Regions from separate parts of the Homo sapiens genome. Here region 1 is linked to region 2. The links come from fine-mapping of genetic effects on gene expression. A gene starts in region 2. The other region holds a variant in brackets. All regions are shown on one strand. Distances are from middle to middle. Region 1 has its middle 74 kb from the start of HLF. Region 2 holds the start of TOM1L1 (target of myb1 like 1 membrane trafficking protein).

The links. PIP is the estimated chance that this variant, and not a neighbour inherited with it, causes the effect.
Region 1: its variant is the best candidate, but not a certain one, in a credible set for the expression of TOM1L1 in lung (TOPMed, PIP 0.66).

Annotation. Positions count from the first base shown.
Region 1 is chr17:55,189,551-55,192,467 of GRCh38, reverse strand. It overlaps a transcript of STXBP4 not described here. Among named protein-coding and RNA genes, the nearest start is that of HLF, 74 kb to the left of the region's middle. The variant G/A (reference allele first, on the strand shown) is at 1,614.
Region 2 is chr17:54,899,565-54,902,481 of GRCh38, reverse strand. TOM1L1 (target of myb1 like 1 membrane trafficking protein) reads right to left here and starts at 1,630. Exons shown (of 16, transcript NM_005486.3): 1 at 1,559-1,630. The coding sequence starts at 1,616. LOC124904033 (a long non-coding RNA gene) reads left to right here and starts at 1,745. Exons shown (of 2, transcript XR_007065854.1): 1 at 1,745-2,917. RefSeq lists enhancers at 1,316-1,405, 1,426-1,535 and a silencer at 1,616-1,955.

The DNA.
Region 1 (2,917 bases), 290 kb before region 2:
GATAGGTTAATTTAGGAAGAACAACTTTCAAATTGAGCACATTCAATTGTCCCTCCCTTTCTTCCTCTTGACACCACGTTGCTCACATGAAGTAAGTCCACTTCTGTCATGCCATACATTTTACAGTGGATTGCCTTTCCATTGAGAGGTCTGCTGTGGTTCCAGGATACCTGTGAGTTTATTTACTTCTGGGATGTAGTATTGGAAAAGCCATTCATCTGAAAATATACACTCTATCCTCCAACCTATAGTTTATCAATAATAGAGATGATACATTTAGTCCCTTTGTCTTTTTATCAATTCACTCAGAACTCAGACAGACAGAATTTTTTATTGGATTCAATAGCACGTATTTCTTTTGGTTTTGGTTATGATTAAATTACATAATTCACAAACTTATATAGCACAATCCCTAGCCCTATTTGTCACTTCCATTTAGCTGTTCTTGAGTTATATCCTTTATAATAAACTGCTAATAGTAAGTAAAGCACTTTCCTGAGTTGGGTGAACTGTTCTAGCAAATTATCAAGCATAAGAAAGATGTTGTGGAAACGTACAATTTGTAACCAATCAGTCAGAAATACAGGGGGCCTGGGATTTTTGACTGGTGCCTGAAATTGGGGGAAGCCTTGTTTGACTGAGCTCTTAAGCTGTGGGATCTGCACTATCTCTGAGCAGTGTGAGAATTGAATTGAATTGCTGGATATCTTGAGTTAGTGCCTGGAGAATCAGAGAATTGATTGTTGGTATCGGAGAACACCTCAACTTGACACTGTACATTCAAGGACATAGTTTGGTGGTCAAGTATGAGAAAGAGTAATAGAAAAAGAGTCAGAGACTGAGGTAGATGCAGAAAGAGACTAAGAGAGATGGGGATGAGAACAGAGACAGATGAACTATAACAGAAGACGTCTATGTCCCCTGAAGTGTCAGGGAAATAAGTATTGCTTAGGTTGAAGTTGTTGAGGGACCACTATTTGGTATTTTGAAAAAATAAGAAGGATCCTCCATTGTCATAACCATTTGAAGAAATTTCATCTGGGAAACACAGACTATGATTATCTTTCATCAGGAAGAATGCGTTTTCTCCAGCTGGTGTCACAGAGCTGGAAATGCAGAATCTCAGGTCCCACCCCGGACTTATGAATCAGATTCTGCATATTGGCTCCCAGGTGGCACATATGCACATTGTAGTTTGAGAAGCCCTGTCCTGGGGTATTAGATCAGTAAAGCGAAAATCAGACTTGGGTTCTAATAGTCCCTTCAGCACTCTCCAGCCACATGACTCTAGAAAGAACCTATCTACCCTGAGTTTCAGCTTCCTCATCTGTATAATGGGAATAAAAGATCTGCACTCCTTGTTTTAGGATTTGTTGGGAAGAACCAATAAAATTGGAATATGAAGATACTTTGAAGACTGGAAAGGGCTCTGAAAATGGAAGCTCTCCAGTTGCTCAGTAAATGAGGCTAGGGTGGGGATTGGCCTTTCCCCTGACTATCACTTGTGAGTTTCACTTTACTGCTACGGTCATTCTCTCTGGCTCTGAGTAAACCCCACCATGTGTGAAGGAAATGTGAGCAAGTCAGCAGATGAAGTGTGTATTTTTGAACAC[G/A]TTAATTTCTTTATCAGCTCTATTTTTTTTCTGAGGGCATCACTGTATTACATTAATGCCTTGAGTTGTTAACAATACCAGCTGGCACTGCAGGTCTCACTTATATACACAGTGTAAAAGCTCAGGGAGTAGCGTGGAAATTGCCACCCAAACCACAATGCTGGATCTCCTCCTTGGCATGCTTATTATCTCCCTCGGGAGCAGATCCACCATTCCTTCCTTTGTTTTCAAAACCCTTTATTTATGATATTATTTGGCATCTATGCAATTACTTTTGTTCTTCTGTGGGGTTTGAGGCCTTGGGAGATCACAGACTTTATAGTTTCTCTTTTATCTCTGTCTCTTCAGGGCTTGGCATGTAGCAGGAATGTCAGACATATCTGTGGCATATGAATAGTGGTGGTGGGGAATGTGAAATTGACCATTGTATCCCTACTTATTCATTCATTATTAGCATCAACGAATCTTTCTCAGATAAGGCCATCCTTGACAGTATACATGAGGTCTTGTGCACCCCTATGCTTCCCTGGAACCCTTTCAAAATGCTCATCACACATGCAGACATTTAATGAATATCTTTCCTGAGAGCTTGTGAGCTCTCTGAGGGCAGGGATTGTTCTGTTCCTTGCTGTATCCTTGGGTTCAGGACAATACCTGTCACATTATGGTGTTCAATAAGTATTTGTAGAATTAAAGTGATTCACTAGAGATTCCAATTCTTGAGGATTCCTACCTTCAGTATTCCTTTCTAAAACCAAATTATCCCAACAGTAAAATTTCCCCACTTGGAAATCTAGCCAATTTTTTCCCCGTTTAGAAAGTTTCCCTATCAATTCTTTTCTCCAGTGGCCTACTGCCTAGAGGAAAGGAAAGTAACACTTACTGAACTGCCTACTTTCAACAATATATAATAAGTGTTATTTTCTCTACTCTTCTAGAGAGGAGAATGATGTTCAGAAGGTAAGTGGCATGACTAAGAGGTACTGTGGGGCAAGGCTAGGATTCTAACCCAGGTTTAATCCAATTTACAGTCACTCTTCCCACTGAATCACACCACCTGGGTAGCACATAGATGACTCTTATACTTTCTCATATTTTTCGTCTAGCATCTGTTTTTCAGAGCGTAATCTTGTTTGAATAGGGCCACAGAACTGGCCAATGTCAGAGAGGACTGATATTCCAAATTTAATTACTTGTATAGGTTTATTTTCAACAAGAATTACTTCATAACTCAGCCTTCACTCTTTCAGACTAAACTGTCTCCTTCCATCTGGGGCACGTAACTTGACCGTGGCCTCACTTCG
Region 2 (2,917 bases):
TCCATCTCTACTAAAAATACAAAAATTAGCCTGGCGTGGTGGCATGTGCCTGTAGTCCCAGCTACTCGGGAGGCTGAGGAAGGAGAAGTGCTTGAACCCGGTAGGCGGAGGTTGCAGTGTGCCGAGAGCTACTGCACTCCAGCCTGGGTGTCACTCCCCGTCTCAAAACAAAAACAAAAACAAAAACAAAACAACAACAACAAAAAACTTGAATCTGGCACCGAATGGACAAAGCTTACCTCCCTAGAAAAGAAAACTCCTATTCACCCTTCAAAAGCCACGCAGAATTCATTTCTCCCTTCTCCTAAGTTTTGTGTGTTTTGCATTTTCTTGCATTGCAAAGGTGCCACACAAAACTGTGCCCGTCTTCTCTACAAGAAAGTGAGTTCCCTCAGGTTTGAGACCACGTCTCACCTTGGCCTCACCAGTGCCTGATCCAGGTCCAGGCACATAGCTGACAGTTAGTCCATGTTTACAGAATTAAAAAATTAAGCAGAAGAACTGCTGAAGTTTCGTTTGCCTATGAAGACACAGTCTGAATCCATTTCTGCTTGGGGTTCATTCTAATATCCAAAAAAGCACAGCCATTAAGGGAAAGCATCTCCTCAATGGTAGCTACTCTGACCATCTTATAAGGATGTGTAAACTAAGGTTCTGTTTAAGTGGTGTGTTCGGTGTCACAGCAGTTAGTAGAGCTGTGATCTAAATTTTCCAAATCTGGGCCTCTTTACTACAACTACTAGGTTCTCACGATTTCATCACCCCACTAAGTTCCTGACATCATCACACTTTGCCTGGCATTAATATGCACTCGTGCCACACCCAATTCCCAAGGGAGGAATCAGGGAAAAGAAGGAGCAGTGAGCTGGTGCTGGTAGGAGTCCAATCACTGGCTTCTACATACATCATGCAAGGTACATCCGGAGGAGAGAGAAATCATTTAGGTGGATGCTGGTGTAGTCCCTAGTGGCCTGCGAGAGACCTCCGTGGCCCCAGATGGCTCCTATGTTCCCCTCCTCTTCACTCCAATGCCAAGCATTTTCATTCTCTTTGTTTACCCAGAAAAGTAATCCAGGTTGTATAAGCTTGGCACTAGAGAAAACTGGTTTGGGGAGACCTGCCCCTCACAGTAAGGCCACATCACTTAGTCTCCCAGAGCCTCCTCTTCTGATCTGTAAAACGGGCATAACAATACCGTGCCCTGGAGAATGTGCCTTTAGGAATAACTTCCCCTACCGAGAAGTTTCTGGTGTCTCCTCGTGGAGGCCCAAACACTCCATGCCTGACTCCCGCGGTTCACCTGTTTGGTTCCACTCCCCAGGCGGCATCGAAAGGAAGGTACATTTTTGAGGACTGAGGTTCTACAGTGAGTTGGCCAAGAAGGAAACGACGAAAGGGGGCCGGGTGGAATGCGGGTGCCTTGGGAAAGTTGCGGGGGGAGGGGAATAATTTTTTCAAGTTGGACTAACTCCGTCCTCTGCAGGCCGAGAATGGATCAAGCAGGAAAGGATCCCACGGTCCCCTGCCTGCCTGGGCGTCTCTCCCCGCGCCTCCTTACCTATGAGGTGGCCCACGGAGGTCGCGTAGGGATCCCGGTGACTCTTGCCAAACGCCATGGTAGCGCCAGAGGGCCGGGCCCAGGAAATCCGCCTCCACCGCTCTCCGGCTCCCGACTCCACCCGCTCGGTACCCTTGGCTCCTCCTCTTCGCCCGAGCGCTTCCCGGGCTCTGGCAGAGGCGGTGCGTTCTGCGCTGCCGCTGCGGGGCGCGGGCACCGAGCGTGAGGAGCTGGGCGCGGGGCAGGGACGCGAGGGCGGGGCTTCGGGACGCCCAGCGCACCTGCAGCGCGCCCTGCGGGACCCGCGAGGAGGCTGCGCTGCCGGCTGCAGGTGGTACAGGCGGGTAGTGGCGGGTGTATGGAGCCTGCGAGAGTGGCGCGGCCGCCCGCTCGGATCCCAGGTGGGCTTTTCGCCCCGTGCAGGAGGAGCAGGCAGCCCAGAATCTCCAGCCTGGGAATTAGAGACCCAGGCTTTGATCCTGCCGCTTGCTGGGCACCTTGTCATTCTTCTCTGCGCCTCTTTGGCTGCCCTGGGTAGACCAAAGATAATAGGGGGTTAATAACACAAACCTCAGAATTATGAGAATTAAGGGAAGGACGTAACCGATTATGTCGGTGTCTGGTACCCACAAAATAAATAGTTAGCCACTGAATATACTGAATAACTAGAAATATTTACCCTCGACCTGCCTTTGTCCTAGAGATCCGGGAGGGGAGGTGTGCGCCCTGCCCTTTAAAGTTGTGGTCATGTCTAGGAGGAAGGATTGGCTTCGAATTTAGGGCTTCCCAGGAGCAGGCCCTCTTTGTCTCTCTACTATTTCCTCGAGGGACCACAGGGCGCCGCCTCGCAAGCTCTTGTTTTCTAACCCCACCTTCTGGGAGCCGTGTTTTCCAGCCTGATTCTAAAAACGGGAGAGGGGCTTTCCGTTTCTTCTGGCAAGGAGTATGCTTGGCTTTAGGCCTGCTTTGTAATGTAGGTTGGAATCTGAGAAGCCCAACACCTTTCCAGCTGCCCCTTCAGAACCAGAATTTATTTCCTATTCCTTTGCATTCAATTAACATCTGATTGGCGATGTTAACAATCTCCAGCCAGCAGGAGCCTGCCAGAGAGTGAGGTGTCCCCAGGCGATGTCAGATAGCCATAGATGAGCTCCTGGTGCTTGTAGATCCTGTTTCCTGTAGTCTAACTGCCACCCATTTCAAGTCTGTTTTTTAGCCCTGGAGATGGTGACTAGGGAGACGAAGGGGACCTGTTTTGACTTATGTCCGTGGTCTTGTGAATTTTAATATAGAGGTCAAAACCAATTGCCATGCACTCCAGGAGGCTAACATTTAATTATCTGTAACTCAATTATTTAT